2 separate regions of the Homo sapiens genome follow, and region 2 is linked to region 1. The links come from fine-mapping of genetic effects on gene expression. Tissue or cell type: whole blood. Region 1 holds a variant in brackets; the other region holds the start of a gene. All regions are shown on one strand. Distances are from middle to middle.

The links. PIP is the estimated chance that this variant, and not a neighbour inherited with it, causes the effect.
Region 2: it holds the start of PLPP5, and the variant in region 1 is fine-mapped to the expression of PLPP5 in whole blood (INTERVAL, PIP above 0.99).

Annotation. Positions count from the first base shown.
Region 1 is chr8:38,185,842-38,193,946 of GRCh38, forward strand. BAG4 (BAG cochaperone 4) reads left to right here. Exons shown (of 5, transcript NM_004874.4): 2 at 6,847-6,954. Among named protein-coding and RNA genes, the nearest start is that of BAG4, 13 kb to the left of the region's middle. The variant T/TTTGTTGTTGTTGTTG (reference allele first, on the strand shown) is at 3,972.
Region 2 is chr8:38,264,446-38,272,550 of GRCh38, forward strand. PLPP5 (phospholipid phosphatase 5) reads right to left here and starts at 4,779. Exons shown (of 7, transcript NM_001102559.2): 1 at 4,681-4,779; 2 at 4,437-4,545; 3 at 3,926-4,016; 4 at 3,452-3,515; 5 at 2,822-2,946; 6 at 1,696-1,866; 7 at 1-159. The coding sequence starts at 4,754. It overlaps NSD3 (nuclear receptor binding SET domain protein 3), which reads right to left. Exons shown (of 24, transcript NM_023034.2): 24 at 5,259-8,105. It also overlaps a transcript of DDHD2 not described here. RefSeq lists a silencer at 4,498-4,977.

The DNA.
Region 1 (8,105 bases):
TGTGAGCCACCGCGCCTGGCCATGAAGAAACACTTGTTCAAGAAAATCTACAAAAGTCAGTAAGAACATTGGGTCTGTGGTATTTGAACTAAAAGCTCCTCCATCCCTCCTTTTTTGCAGCTAGTGAGATAGAAACTTTACTCTAGAGGGTGTAGCCAAGAACACAGGGCTCCAGCTCCATGTATTCCACCTCATAGCCTCAGTCAGAAGGTTTTCATCCTAGGAGGAGGAGTAGCGTACCAACATTTCTCATTTTGCCTCAGATGCCTGTCACTGAGGCAAAATTCTAGGTAATTGTGGCTGAGTGGTGGTGGTTCCTTTCTTTCACCCAGTCCCTACTCCTAGGATGGAGACTTGACCTTGGGCAAGGCACTGCTGAAAATACTGGGGCTCTGATCTCCTTTACCCTTGCTTTTCAAGCCGAGAAGCCCTAAGTCTACAGCCTCCCTTCCCGTGGGTACTCCACTTCGTAAAGCAGGGATGCCATTCAGATAAACACACCATTGTCCCCACTCTAGCTGTAGAGAGTGGCTCAGATGTTTTATCTGGAAGCAGAAGTAGGCTGTAAAACAGGTAGCTCCTAATCTTTTCCTAAAGGAACAAAGTATGGAGAAGCTCAGGAGTGTGGAGAAAGTCAAAAAAACTGCGGAGGTTGTTGTGCAAAGCAATAGGGAAGAGACTGGTTAGATTCACTGGAGATGCAGGATAAACTAGTAGGCCAGCTAGTTTGCTGGAGAGAACCAGGAAAAGAAGAAGCTAGGAGGAGCCCTTTGGTATCAGAACAACTCTCAAACACTGACCTTGGGAACTAACTGTCCCTTTAGAGGGACCCAAATTTGATCTACTCAGTCTGTGGAGCAATTTATGCCTCAGGGTGTTATTAAAACCAGTAGAGCAATCAGCTGGAAATTAGTGAAGCTTTAACAACTAGATGTGGTCAAGGAAAGATACACTCAAAGAAAGTCTTACAAAAATCTTTGTCATCCAGGATGACTGTGGGCATACCCAAGGCTGTGCCTTCTAATGAGCAATATCACATACTTCATACTTGAAGTTTGAGGGCAAACAGACTTTGCAAAAATAATCCAGCTGGTTACTAAACAAATGAGCAAATGACAATAACAAGCCTAAGGTGGAAAAGGTGGGACCAGTAGTACTCAGAGTTGCTAAAATGTCTAGTTTCCAACAAAGAATTATGAGCTATGCAAAGACACAGGAAAGTATGACCCATACACTGGAAAAAAAGCAGGTAACAGAAACTGATTGTGAAAGTGACCAGATGTCACATTTAATAGACAAAGACTTCAAAGTAGCCATTATATATGTTCAAATAACTAAAAAACTATGATTAAAGAAGCAAAGAAAGGTGTGTGATAATGTCATGTCAAATAGGGAATATCAATAAAGAGATAGCAATTATATATTAAAAAAGAAACAAATAGAAATTCTGGAGTTGAAAAGTACAGTAACTAAAATGAAAAATTAACTAGAGGAGTTCAATAGGCTAGAACTGACAGAAGAAAGAATTCATGAATTTGAAGATAGATCAATACAGATTATGCAATATGAAGGAGAGAAAAAAGACTGATGTGTTGGAGAAGTGTCAGACACCATTGAACACACCAGCATATCAGAAATGATTAATAACAAGGTTAATATAACAAAAGATGCAAATATGCTCTTTTCTTCTCAGATTCTTTAAAAGACATTATATAAAGTAATAAGTATAACAATATAATGTTGAGTTTGTAACATTTGTAGACATAATGTGGATTACAATAAAATCACAAAAAAGGGGAAAAGGAACAGACTTATATAGGAATAGCATTCCTGTATCTCACTGGAATTAAGTTGGTATAAATCAGAAGCTGATTCTGATGAGAAGCATATTGTTAGCCCAGCTGGGTGCTGTGGCTCACGCCTGTAATCCCAGCAATTTGGGAGGCCAAGGTGGGCAGATCACAAGGTCAGGAGATCGAGACCATTCTGGCTAACATGGTGAAACCTTGTCTGTACTAAAAATACAAAAAAAAAAAAAAAAAAAAATTAGCCGGGCGTGGTGGCGGGCGCCTGTAGTCCCAGCTACTTGGGAGGCTGAGGCAGGAGAATGGCATGAACCCGGGAGGCGGAGCTTGCAGTGAGCCGAGATCGTGCCACTGCACTCCAGCCTGGGTGATAGAGTGAGACTCCGTCTCAAAAAAAAAAAAAAAAAAAAAAGGAAGAAGAAGAAGTGTATTGTTAGCCCAAGAGTAACTGCTAAAGAAAAAAAAAGTATAATCATTAAGTTATAATGCTACATTTGAAAATATTCACTTAATGCAAAAGAAAGCAGTAAAGGTGGAATAAAGGACAAAAACACATGAGACATATAAAAAACAAAAAGTAAAAATAAAACATGTAAATCCAGCTATATCAATAATATTAAATGTGCATGGATTAAGCAATCTAGTCAGAAGACAGACTGGATTAAAAAAAAAACAAGATCCAATTATATGGTGTCTAAAGGTGGCACACTTAAGGTTTAAAGATACAAATAGTTTGAAAGTAAATGGATGGAAAAAGAAATATAATGCAATAAAGAAAAGATAAATGTTTGAGGTGTCAGATATGCCAGTTACCCTGTTTTGATCATTACACTTTATATACATGTATCAAAATATCACATGTATCCCAAAAATATGTACTACTTTTATTAATTAAAAATTACATATATGCACATATAAATACATATATATACGTGTATACACATATATATATGCATGTATACATATATATACATGTACACATATATATACATATATACATGTATACATATATACATGTATACATATACATGTATACATATATACATGTATACATATATATGTATATATATATAAAAATATGCAAAAGGCAACTATGAGAAAGCTGGAGTGGCTACTTTAATATCAGCTTTTTATTTACTTTTTATTTATTTATTTGTTTATCTTTGAGATGGAGCCTTGCTCTGTCACCCAGGCTGGAGTGCAGTGGCACGATCTTGGCTCACTGCAACCTCCGCCTCCCAGGTTCAAGCAATTTTCCTGCCTCAACCTCCCAAGTAGCTAGGACTACGGGTGTGTGCCACCATGCCCGGCTAATTTTTTTTTTTTTTTTGAGATGGAGTCTCACCCTGTTGCCCAGGCTGGAGTGCAGTGGTGCAATCTCAGTTCACTACACCTCTGCTTCCTGGGTTCAAGCAATTCTCGTGCCTCAGCCTCCTGAGTAGCTGCCCGCCACCACACCCAGCTCATTTTTGTATTTTATTAGAGACGAGGTTTCACCATGTGGGCCCGGCCGGTCTTGAACTCCTGACCTCAAGTGACCCACCCACCTCGGCCTCCCAAAGTGTTGGGATTACAGACGTAAGCCACCATGCCAGGCCTGAATTATATACTTTAAATAGGTGAATTGGATGGTAGTGAGTAAAACTTGAAAATAAGAATACCAGTTTTATGAGTAACAACTAATGGATGCAGTTTCGGTTTCTTTGCAGTTCAGCTTGTCCTTAGAGAATAAATTCCACTGAGGACGTACAGTCAAAATAACGTGAGCTAAAAGTCATTTGAAGTAATTCTTTTTTCTCTGTGGTTATGTTACCAACTTGATTGTTAGTTATTGCATTAATTGACTTTTCCTATACTGAAACAACAATTCCAGAATTTTAGTAGCTTATAATGATAAACATTTATTTCTTGCTCAGGTTCTGTGAGTCCACTCTAGTGGTTCTTCTCTAGGCCCCAGGTTCAGTTCAGGTCTACCTGTGTGTCTTCTCATCCTGGGACTTCAGTTGAAAACACAGCTCCCATATAAGATAATGTAGGTCTTGTGGAGGGCATGGGAACACAAGAGGGTTGCTAGAATTTGCAGCGACTCCTAAATCCTTTGTGTGGACTGGCACACTGTCACTTTTATCCATATTTGTTTGTTTTGCATAAAAGGTTAAATTACGT[T/TTTGTTGTTGTTGTTG]TTGTTGTTGTTGTTGTTGTTTTGAGACGGAGTCTCCCTCTGTTGCCCAGGCTGGAGTGCAGTGGCGTGATCTAGGCTTGCTGCAAGCTCCGCCTCCCAGGTAGCTGGGACTACAGGCGCCCGCCACCACACCTGGCTAATTTTTTGTATTTTTAGTAGAGATGGGGTTTCACCGTGTTAGCTAGGATGGTCTCTATCTCCTGACCTCGTGATCCACCTGCCTTGGCCTCCCAAAGTGCTGGGATTACAGGTGTGAGCCGCTGCACCCAGCCAAATTATGTTTTTTACTTATGTGAGTTTGTAATGACACCACCACATTCACTATCCCCCAGTTCTTCCTCATTTTGCCCCATTCCATATTTTATCTTTCCTTGTCCTCGTGACAATATCGGTTCCCAATAACACTACTGTATGTATTTATTCTATTCTACAATACACACAATATAGTTTAAAAATTAAGATAGTAATATCACTACTAATAACATTATATGAAGAGTTTAAGATATTTTTAAATTTCTTTTGCTTTTAGAAAGGTACCACTAAAGATGTCCATTCAGAAAACTGTTCAAGAATTATTTGAATTATATTCTGTGTGTGGTTATCAAGTCAGTAGGTTTTTTCTTTTTAAAGATGGGGTCTTACTCTGTTGCCCAGGCTGGAGTGCAGTAGCACAATCATAGATCATAGCTCACCATAACCTTGAATTTCTGGACTTTGCCTCTGCCTCTCACCTCTCAGCCTCCTGAGTAGCTGGGACTATAGGCACCCATCATCACGCCCACCTGACATTTTTTTTTTTTTTTTTGGGTAAAGACTGAGTCTCATTATTTTCCAGGCTGGTCTTGAACTCCTGGTCTCTGGCCCCAAGCAATCCTCTTGCCTCAGCTACCCAAAGTGCTGGGATTACAGATTGAGCCACTGCGCCCAGCCCAAGTTGGTGGGTTGTCTTTTTTTTTTTTTTTGAGACGGAGTCTCTGCTCTGTGGCCCAGGCTGGAGTGCAGTGGCATGATCTCTGCTCACTGCAACTTCTGTCTCCTGGGTTCAAGCTATTCTCGTGCCTCAGCTTCCTGAGTAGCTGAGATTACAGGCACCCACCACCACACCCAGCTAATTTTTGTATTTTTAGTAGAGACGGGGTTTCACCGTGTTGGCCAGGCTGGTCTCGAACTCCTGACCTCAGGTGATCCACCCGCGTCAGGCCTCCCAAAGTGGTGGGATTACAGGCGTGAGCCACTGTGCCTGGCCAAGTTGGTGGTTTTTTAAAGAAGATAAAATACAGTTTGAATTCATACTGATATTTACAATTCAAATTAAGGATTATAAGGTTTTAAGTTTCATTATTCTTATATCTGTGTCTCCTATCTCCCATTGTGAAAATACTGATTCCCAACAATACCAATGTAAGTATTCATTTGCAACTATAATACCCGCATAACAGTACCAAGATAACAAACAGTACCAACAGTGTTGATAATTATGATTACTGAAAAAAATTCAAAGTATTACTGAAAACAAAGTATTATGAAATGGATAAGTAGTGCAGTTAAGCTAATAGTGATAATCTCTCAGTTATTTCAGCTGCCAATGAATTTCTTTGTGAAATCATATTCAAAGTTTTAGAAAAAATGTCGAAGGTCCTGTTCAAGCTTAAAACTATACTTGGGCGGGCACAGTGTGGCTCACGCCTGTAATTCCAGCACTTTGGGAAGCCAAGCCGGGTGGATCTCCTGAGGTCAGGAGTTCAAGACCAGCCTGGCCAAAATAGTGAAACCCGGTCTCTACTAAAAGTACAAAAAATTAGCTGGGCGTGGTGGCAGGTGCCTGTAATCCCAGCTATTCAGGAGGCTGAGGCAGGAAAATTGCTTGAACTTGGGAAGCGGAGGTTGCAGTGAGCCGAGATCGTGCCATTGCACTCCAGCCTGGGCAACAAGAGCGAAACTCTGTCTCAAAAAAAAAAAAAAAAAAAAAACCCTAAATCTATACAGTTGAAAGCAAAATAACTCATAGGATAATAAATGTATGTAATAAACCAGATAATAGGTGCTCTGAGAAGTTTTGAGTATATTTAGTCTTTTATCAAAGTTTATTGGCTTATTGCAAATCATGCGTTAACTTTCTGAGTTGGAGAGAAAGGCTGATGAAATTATTGTCGTAGCTAGATTTTCTCTTTGGATTGGTAAATGTTCTGCATCAATGCCTGACACTGAGGCTGCCAGCGGAAAGCTTAGCCATAGCACAGAGTAGAATATGAAAAACTAGGGTGTGTCAAGGCAAAGAAGTTGGAGATTGAAGATGTATGTGCTTGAGCGAAACTCTAGTAGTAATGTCTTTGTGTTCCAAAGTTATTGGTAAATATAACAGTAGCAAAGAACCATTTTGTTGCACTAATTAAATTAGTAGTCTTGAGGATTAGTTATTGGAGAAGGATAGAGGTGATCTAATGTCTCTGATTTTGCTAATCATCTTGATGTAGTAGAATTCCTTTATATAGCATTTGGTGTGGTGGCATTGTCGAAACAGATAAGAACAGCTTTTTACTAGGTAATAATTGTTTTGTCATAGAGCATTTGATTTACCATGTACTGAATAATTAGCAGTTTTATAGTTGGGGTCCTATTCCCTTTTTTCTTTTATTTTTTGTTTTTAAGAGACGGGGTCTCTCTTGACCATACTAGACTCAATCACCTGAGCTCAAGCGATCCACCCACCTCAGCCTCCGCAGTAGTGGGACAAGAAGCGTGTGCCACTGTGCCCAGCTTATTGCTTTTTGTCTATTGCTTTTTTTTTTAATCCTTATAACCTGCCTCTATCAATCTATCTTAAAATGATGTATGAATGTTATTAAGAGTGAATTTATTTTTCTTTTTTTCTTAGGAGCAGCCACCATATCCTAGCTACAATTCTAACTATTGGAATTCTACTGCGAGATCTAGGGCTCCTTACCCAAGTACATATCCTGTAAGACCAGAATTGCAAGGCCAGGTATGGTTTAAAAACAGAGACTTTCTGAACTTTTTCTTAATGAATAGATTTATTTTCAAAACCTGTGCAGATTTTAGAGCAGTGATGAGTGTGTGTTTTTTTTCTTTGCTTTAATGGGCTCCATCAATCTCATCTTAATGTTTTTAGCTCAGAGATAAGGAAATATCTAGGCAAATATACCTATAGCTTGAGGCATAATAAATTATTTTCCAGGACCCAGAAGGAACAAACATAAAATATACTTATTTTTGAAAACTTTACTGATTACAGACATTTAATTTAAAATATTTTAAAATTATAAAAAGTACAGAAAATATATACATTTTAAATCTAGCATGCAGGGCTGGGTGCAGTGGCTCACAGCTGTAATCCCAGCACTTTGGGAGACCAAGGCAGGCAGATCACCTGAGGTTAGGAGTTCAAGACCAGCCTGGCCAACATGGTGAAACTCCATCTCTACTAAAAATACAAAAATTAGCTGGGTGTGGTGGTGGGCGCCTGTACTCCCAGCTACTCGGGAGGCTGAGGCAGGAGAACCGCCTGAACCCAGGAGGCGGAGGTTGCAGTGAGCTGAGATCACACCATTACACTCCAGCCTGGGCGACGAGTGAGACTCCGTCTCAAAACAAAAAACAAACAAAAAAACCCCACGAAAATCTAGCATGCAGATTTGTCAATTTCTGTTTGCCACATTTGTTTCAGATTTTTAAGAAAGAAGTAAACCAAATACAATTGAAGCCCAATGACACTTCTTTTCATTTACTGAAATTTTATTTATTTATTTATTTGAAACAGGGTCATTTTCTGTTGCCCAGGCTGGAGTGCAGTGGTATGATCTCAGCTCACTGCACCCTCCTCCTCACAGGTTCAAGTGATTCTCCTGCCTCAGCCTCCTGAGTAGCTGGGACTACAGGCACACACCACCATACCCAGCTAATTTTTTGATTTTTTTTTTTTTTTTTGAGATGGAGTCTTGCTCTGTCGCCAGGCTGGAGTGCAGTGGCATGATCTTGGCTCATTGCAGCCTCCGCCTCCTGGGTTCAAGTGATTCTCCTGCTTCAGCCTCCCAAGTAGCTGGGACTACAGGCATGTGCCACCACACCTAGCTAATTTTTGTATTTTTAGTAGAGATGGGGTTTCACCATGTTGGC
Region 2 (8,105 bases), 79 kb after region 1:
AAATATCAAAACAATAAGAATCCCCAGGCTTCTGTGCAGTGGAAAGTACAAGTTTGTCTTGAAATGGTTTATGGCATTCTGCATCAGTCAGAGGAGGATAATACTGCCGATAGCAGACATAGGCAAATGTCATTCCAATCATGGATCCAACTAGTACATCTGAAGAGAGTGGAAACAAGGTCTTCTCTTAATATTAGGCTCCTAAATCCTATTACATACACATAGCATAGAGGACCTGGCCCTCCAGGATACTCTACTGTGGGGCTAAAATAACCTCAATTCCAGACTTATGATTTCTAAATAAAATCTTTTTATTCTCAATTTTATCATAGTTACAGTATTATCATTGTCAGGTTGCTTTCTGAACACCAAATCAAAACACATCTTAAGTAAGTATAATAAGCTTTGTTCAGAGTGTACTAAATTAGAATTTTTCTAACTCAGAAGAGTAACAAAGGTCCACTTATTGCTATTCATCTGCCCATTTTCACCATTTAAAGGGTCCTAGAGGAAGGAATAAAGTATTTTAAGAGTTGCTTCTCGCCGGGCACGGTGACTCACGCCTGTAATCCCAGCACTTTGGGAGGACCAGGCAGATGGATCCCGAGGTCAGGAGATTGAGACCAGCCTGACCAACAAGTGAAACCCTGTCTCTACTAAAAATACAAAAATTAGCCGGGCGTGGTGGCATGTGCCTGTAATCCCAGATACTCAGGAGGCTGAGGCAGGAGACTTGCTTGAACCCAGGAGGTGGAGGTTGCAGTGAGCCGAGATGGTGCCACTGCACTCCAGCCTGGGCGCAGAGCTAGACTCTGTCTCAAAAAAAAAAAAAAAAAAAAGAGTTGCTTCTCTTTGCAAAAAACTAGTTTATTTAAAAATTTAAAATAGGGTTCCTGAGGACCTGTGGGCAATACCTCCAGCGTTTTTTTTGGAATTGTGTCAGGTTCAAGCCATTCTCCTGCCTCAGCCTCCCAAGTAGCTGGGATTAAAGGCGTGTGCCACCATGCCCAGCTGATTTTGTATTTTTAGTAGAGATAGCGTTTCACTGTTGGTCAGGCTGGTCTTCAACTCCTGACCTCAGGTGATCCACCTACCTCACCTTCCCAAAGTGCTGTGATTACAGGCATGAGCCACTGCACCTGGCCTCAATTTTTGTATTTTTAGTAGAGACGGGGTTTCAATATGTTGGCCAGGCTGGTCTCGAATTCCTGACTACAGGTGATCCGCCTGCCTCAGCCTCCCAAAGTGCTGAGGTGTGAGCCACCGCGCCAAGCCAGGTGTTCTGTAATTTGGATATTTTACTTACTATAGCATTCAGCTTAAATTTGTTTGGTTTAATTATAATTTTATGTTTTCTTGAATTTTACTTATGTTTTTGAACAAAAGTCCTATGACAATGAACCTGATTTTTAAGAGAGTAAATTGAACTTTGAGGTTTTAAATTTCCTGTAGATGCAGTTTAACTTGAACTTACAATGCTTCAAATAATGGAAAAATTAGGATGTTTATCTTTGGTAAACTCTTTTTGTCTTATCTTTCCTATAATTTTAAATGTACTTAGTACAGAACCCAGACCATCCATACTCATTAATTTGTTCATTCAGCAGATATTTAGTAAGCATCTCCTCTGTGCTAGGTGCTAGGAATAAAATGAGTGAAATATGCAAGCTTCCATAGCCTGAGTACTTTGCTTACCTTGCCAGTGATGCTTGTAGTCACATGTGCGGGACAGTGCAATCACAGCTGCAAAAAGTAGAGGTGACAGAAAGGCACAGAACCTCCAAGATTTCCCACGGCCTTGTGGTGTGAAGCAGTGTAACTTCCCTGCCAGGTAGAAGGACGCAAAGGCCAGACCAGCAAATGCAACTGGAACAAGAAAAACTTTTAAGTGGTTTGTCTTTTAAAGGAAGCTACCTCATTCATCCCCACATAGGAGGCTAGGAAGCATGAGTATGTTTTTATTTATTTATTTTTTGAGACAGTCTTGCTCTGTCGCCCAGGCTGGAGTGCAGTGGCACCATCTCGGCTCACTGCAACCTCCACCACCCGGGTTCAAGCGATTCTCCTGCCTTAGCCTCCCGAGTAGCTGGGACTCCATGTGTGTGCCACCATGCCCAGCTAATTTTTTTATTTTTAGTAGAGTTGGGATTTCACCATGTTGGCTAGCCTGGTCTTGAACTCCTGGCCTCAAGTGACCTGCATGCCTTGGCCTCCCAATTGCTGGGATTACAGGTATGAGCCACCACACCCGGCCATGAGGGTGTTTTAATCCTTTTTTGTGTATACTTATAGTGTAAGTCATTGTGAAGGAAAGGGAAACAAAAAGAAAAATGAAGGACTTAGTGCCCCAAAGTTAATGTTTTATCTGAGTATAGTTTTCGGTATACTAGCTATATGTATCAACTTGTTGATGCTTTAGTTTCCTCATCTATAAATGGGACTCATAAATACAATAGTCCCCACCTCATTGGATTATTGTGAGCTATAATTAGGTAAGAAATGAAAATGCTTCAAAGTACCTGACACATAGAAACTCTTCGTTAAAGGTATTTTTATTGCTAGTACAAGATTGCAGGATCTAGGCAAATAATATAACAATTAAATGTGCAAATCTCATGAAGGTAAACTACCTTTCTGTTCTGTAATATTTACCCAAATAGTCAAGGCTCAGACTTGTTAAACTGTGGAGTTACTAAAGAAGGGGGGATTTTCCAAATTGTAGAAACAAGAGTAGTCAGATTTTCCCATCCCTACTAGCTTTCTAGGTTAAATTCAATGATGTGAAAACAAGCATAGGGTAGAGTCCATATGATATTCATACAGGAAGAATGTCCACTGGGGAAGCTCTTTCGGCCCTCATTCACCACGTCCTTATCCCCTGTACACATCAAGTCAGAATGGGCTAGCCCATCAGGGAAGCAGCGGTAGAAGAAATCTGGGCGTGGCCTGGAAGAAAGCAGCATGGTTGGAACGTAAATCATTAACTCCAGAAATTATTTTTCAGTTGTAGCAGACATTAATAATCCTGTTAACTATTGGTCAAATAGTGCCCCAGGCAAAATAAGGTAACTGGCTTAGTATAGTCACCACACTAAGAGAAAAGCCTTTCAAGGTGAGCATTTAAATTAGGGGAAAAACGCCCATTCCAGCACATGATTACTTTTTAGGGCAAACAGCAAATGACACTGCAGCTTCAGGAGGTGCTCAAGAGGACACTGACCGACTGCTGTGGCCGTTGGTGGGAAATGCTGTTCAGGCAGAAAAGAGCCCAGGTGTCACCTGGAGGACTGAGGTATGGGGAAGGGAGTAAGCGTTGAATGACAAAAGAAAAATCAGAGTGAAGATAAAGGAGAAAAGAATGAGAAAGACGTGTGGTGGACACCATTAACCTCTCTGTTCTGGTGGGTAAGGGCTGAGGCAGATGCTGGGGTGGTTAGCTGTTGTCACTTACCTCCCTACGATCAGTTTTATTGTGTTGGTAAAGACGCCATTCAGAGCCAGGGCAAGGCTGGCAGCTGCAAAGCAAAGCCATTAGTTGAAAGGATCTGTCTAGGAGGAAAGGTATGGTCATGGCCTCGTTATGAGAGCAGCCGTGCTGTTTCTGAGATGGATAGAATCCAACCAGGCCTGGGCACAAAAATAATTAGGGTCCTCAGTGATCACTCTTTTGTAGCCGAGAACTTTTGTACTAGGCCAAAGACATTTCTGAGGTACAAATAACCCAGTGCATTTAGGCACAGGGCTGCCTGCCGTGTAGCCTGCGTAACCAAGTCCCTGCAGTGCTATTTTCCTCTCCCGCGGGGATAGAGTTCCTTTAGGAATGCAGAACTCAGTGGCCTCCACACAGGCTCACCGTGGCTGAATCCCACAACGACCTCCTAGGTTCCCAGCACGAAGAAACCGGCCCGAAAGGGCTAGCGCTCACCCAGGCAGGCTTGTCTGCTGTCTCTTGTGTCTGCCTTCTTGAGAAATTTGGCCAGGAAGATCAGAGACAGTGGAGAGAGAAATGCAATAACCTGAATCAGAATGTCAGAGGTTAAAAACAATCCAAAAAAAAGCCACACTCGTGCTCCTACAGGAAAGAGGGATGTGACACAGCAGGACTCACTGGAGCTAACATAAGGTCTCTGAGTGCGCGTAACCGGGCGCCAGGCAGCGCCACCAGTGAACAGCAGCGCCCGTGCGGCTCGGGCCCCGGTACCTCAGGCTGAGGCACAGAGCGCCCGGGAAAACGTTGTCTCAGCCCAAAGAGGCTCGGACACCCTCCTCTCTCAATCAGGATCTTAAACACTCGAGCCCTAGGAGGCGGAACCCAGCGCACAGCAGCGGAGTGGGCAGTGGGTCCCTACAAAGGCCGTCTCGGGGTGGAAAACGCACAGGTGCCCGCGGGAAGCCGGGTCATGGGGAGGGAGGAAAGACGATCTTTCTCCACGCACAAACATCGGCTTGGTGGGGAAATACTCCGCCTCCACGTAGGGGTTCCGGTAGAGCCACATCTCCTCCGGCTGGATGAGTCTCTGGAACGGGGGGAGCAGCTCCGTCACCCTAGAGGGGAACAAAGAAGCGCAGAGCAGGTCGCCTGGCTTCCTCCCCGCTTCCCCACTGCCCGACCCGCCGCCCCGTGCCGCCCGCCTGCCTGGGAAGCGGGGCCGCCCGGGCCCGGCCGTGGATCTTTCTTACAGGAAGGCCGCGAACAGCGCGAGCCGCACGCCCACTTCGGCCCCAAAGGCCACCGCCGCCGCCGCCTTCCCCATCCGGCCGCGAGCTCCGAGCGACGCTGCGCTGACGTGGCCACCTCCGCGGGGAGGGCCGGGCCGGGAACTGGGCACCGCCCCCTCTCCCAGTTGCCCGCGCTCCGGCGGCTCCCCAGGAAGACGGCCTGGCGGCTGTGCCGAGGGCATCGTCTGGCAAAGGGTACGCAAAGCCAGCGGAGCTGCCCTCTGGTGCGTTCAGCAGGGAGCCAGCGCCCCAGTTCCAGCCGAGTAGGTCGGCGTACGGTCCATCATCAGCAGCTCGTCTCCACGGCCCAACCACACCACCGCGGGGAGCAGCCTTCTCCCGGGACCTCGCCTCTAAATGGAAAACCAAACAGCCCGCTCTCAGATCCTCGTTCCTTAGCAACACAGCCGCATTCTGCAGGAAGCTACACTACCTGAGGTTGGCTGGATTGTGTCATTTAGTCCTCCCACCCAGGATGGCCTCCTGCCCAGAGTGTTGTAGCAAAAAATTATTGGCAAAGAACAAGCCCACATATTTAATTTGGAACATACAGGACAATTTATTGAAGTCAATCTCAAGCAAAATCTGAAATCAGTGGAATGTCATTAAAAACCTTTCCAAATTAATCCTCACGGAAGCAAAAAACACATTGGAATTCCAAAGTATTTGTAAAATAAAAAAGGCAACATCTCAGTAAATATAATGTACAAAAATTATATGTTCCTACCAGCACACACATCAGTAAAGAAGCTTAAATATTACAGGCAACCCTAAATACACTATAACTAGTCAACAATAAGCTATCTATATACAGGTTAACCAAGCTTTACACGTTTCACACTATGCAATAAAACATAGGCCAATCAACAAAATCCTCAAAATATTATATATCTTGAAGTCTATGTGGCAACATCAAGTCATTATACAGTAATGCCCTAGTGGAACACCCCCAGGGAAAATTAACACTAATCCCTTAGTGTCAAGAGCTTCTAGCCAAGTCACAGAAACTCAAAAGAGATTGACTTTAGTGAATATTGATGCTTTGTTATTAAAGACTCAAGTCTCAAGTGATTTAGGCAAAGTAATGGTTCACAGGATCTACAAAGTTTATTACAGATAAAGTACAGAAATAACCAATCTACAAAGATCATTATCATAAAGAACACGAGAAAATGAAAACGGAGTCTGTAGGTATCTGTGTTTGTTGTGCAATATCACTCAAATGGGTACAAATGAGTTTCTCATATCAATTCCAAATATACACATACCCTTGTATATAAAAAATGATATTAGCCAGTTGTAATACTCATTTAGCATCTTGATTATTAGTGGCAATATAATTATCTTAACATAGGGCATGTAACAGGACAAATGAGATAAAATAATGACAACCAAGTAAGTTTTATCCAGTCCATTTCTAAACTGACAAGAATACCTTATTCAATACCTTATATAGGTCATCTGACAGATACTTGAGGGCTGTTTGCACACATCAAGTGTGTTGGCAGGCAGGGAGGGGAGCAGTAAAAGCTGAGGGTGCTTTCTCACTAACTAGCAGATGCAGTAATGCCACATAAGAAAACTAAGGACTGAATAAATGACTTTGGCATCTATTCTATTTTCCCTTTTTACTTACATGTAAATTACTTTTACAGCCTACTGAAGGACAGGCAATTCTCATCCCCCTCCCGCTTCATACATACGTGCCACAAGCACCCAAACTTGTCACTTATGCAATGGACTGACCAAAACAAAACAAAAAACAGAAATGTTTTTTGAAAGACACGGATTACCCACATTTTGGGAGTGTAACGTAAGTGCAATTTTTTGTTTTGTTTTTTTCCCTACATAGACATAGTAAAAGGAAAGAAGATGTGCTTGGGGAGAGGGTTGACAAAATGACAAAATAAAGAATGTACATAAAAAGTATTTGTAAAAATGCTGGTATCTCATGCAGGAGTCTCTTCCTCAAATGTGTTCAATCAATCTGAGCTATCTACTGTGAACACTCTCCCATTTGCAGAACTTCACCTTTAATCCACGCTAAAGAGGATAAGAGACTAGGCTATTTATTTTCAAAACAGTTTACAAAACAATGCTTTCTACTTCATAAATGTAAAAAGAAACTAAAATAAGGAGAATCTGAAGAGTTTCAAGTACTTAAAAAACCTGAATTCAATGAGGCAGAGGTCTCAATGTTAAAGTGACTATTTCGTACCTGTGGTAAACATTATCCCCCCCCTTACCCTTTACCAGGAGAAAGGGGGTTCCCTTTCTCCTGGTACCCCACCCCAGGTAAAAGTTGGTGAGATTTCAGTATATACACATTTCCAACTTTTCAGTATTTGTTAATTCATTGCAAAGCTGTCTAATTATAGTATTCCCTAGTCCATCTGAAAATGGAAGCAAGTTCTACTTTTTGTTTTACAAATAACCAGAGACCAATTCTAGGTGGCCCTAGGCCAAAGGAAAGTGTTTCCATTCATCAATTCATGTCTGCACCAACTTGGACAACTGGGGGAGGCTGGATGCATCAGCCTTGTGAAAAGTAACTTTAGTCTACGCTGCCCAGAAATAAAGCAACTTTCCAATGTCCTTTTTCTCATATGGAAGTATAGAATGTCAGCTTCCCAGCTGTGAGGGCTCCATAGCCACTGTTTTCTTATCTTGTTAAGAGGACATGGCATGTGGCAGCCAACACCTTGACTTCAAGGTGAATGCTAAAGGAAGAGCTTTGTATTTAAAATGAAATGAAAGACAAGCAACAAGTCCTGGGCAGTCCAGAGATTGTATTCTCTACAGATGGCCTGTTTGCAAACAGTAGGTCTGGGTTTGACCTATTGGAATACACCATGCAAGAAACTACTCAAAAAGGAAATTCCACTTCATGAACCAGGAAAGTTGTCCAATAGCCTGTCCCATCTGAGGGTCCTTTACATGATTAGATACTCAATATCTCAGTTCCACAACGTTATTTACAGACATGTTTTCAAATATTTTGTGTAAATGGCAGAAGGGAGCTGGGAGCAGTCCCCCTGCCTCCATTACTTTTTTAGCTTTCACATATGTTCTTGACTTGTACAGAAAATCCCAAATTTTAAATGATTCCCCAACTCAGCCAGTTCTATAGATGAGGCCAGATCATTTTTGAGAATTAAGATAAGAGTGGGAACTTGTTAAAACAAAAATGAAAATAAAACCCACCTCACTCCTGTATCTCTCCCTGATTAGACATTAAAGAGGTGAATCACTGCCTCTGGCTGCTTCAGCCTTCCAGGAATGAAGAGCCATCCACCTTGCCCTTCTCAGCCAGCCACAGGCAGCTCTTCTGATTCTTCCCTCGCAGCAGTGGCGGTCCAGCCCCTCCCTCCCCTGCACAGTGCCTG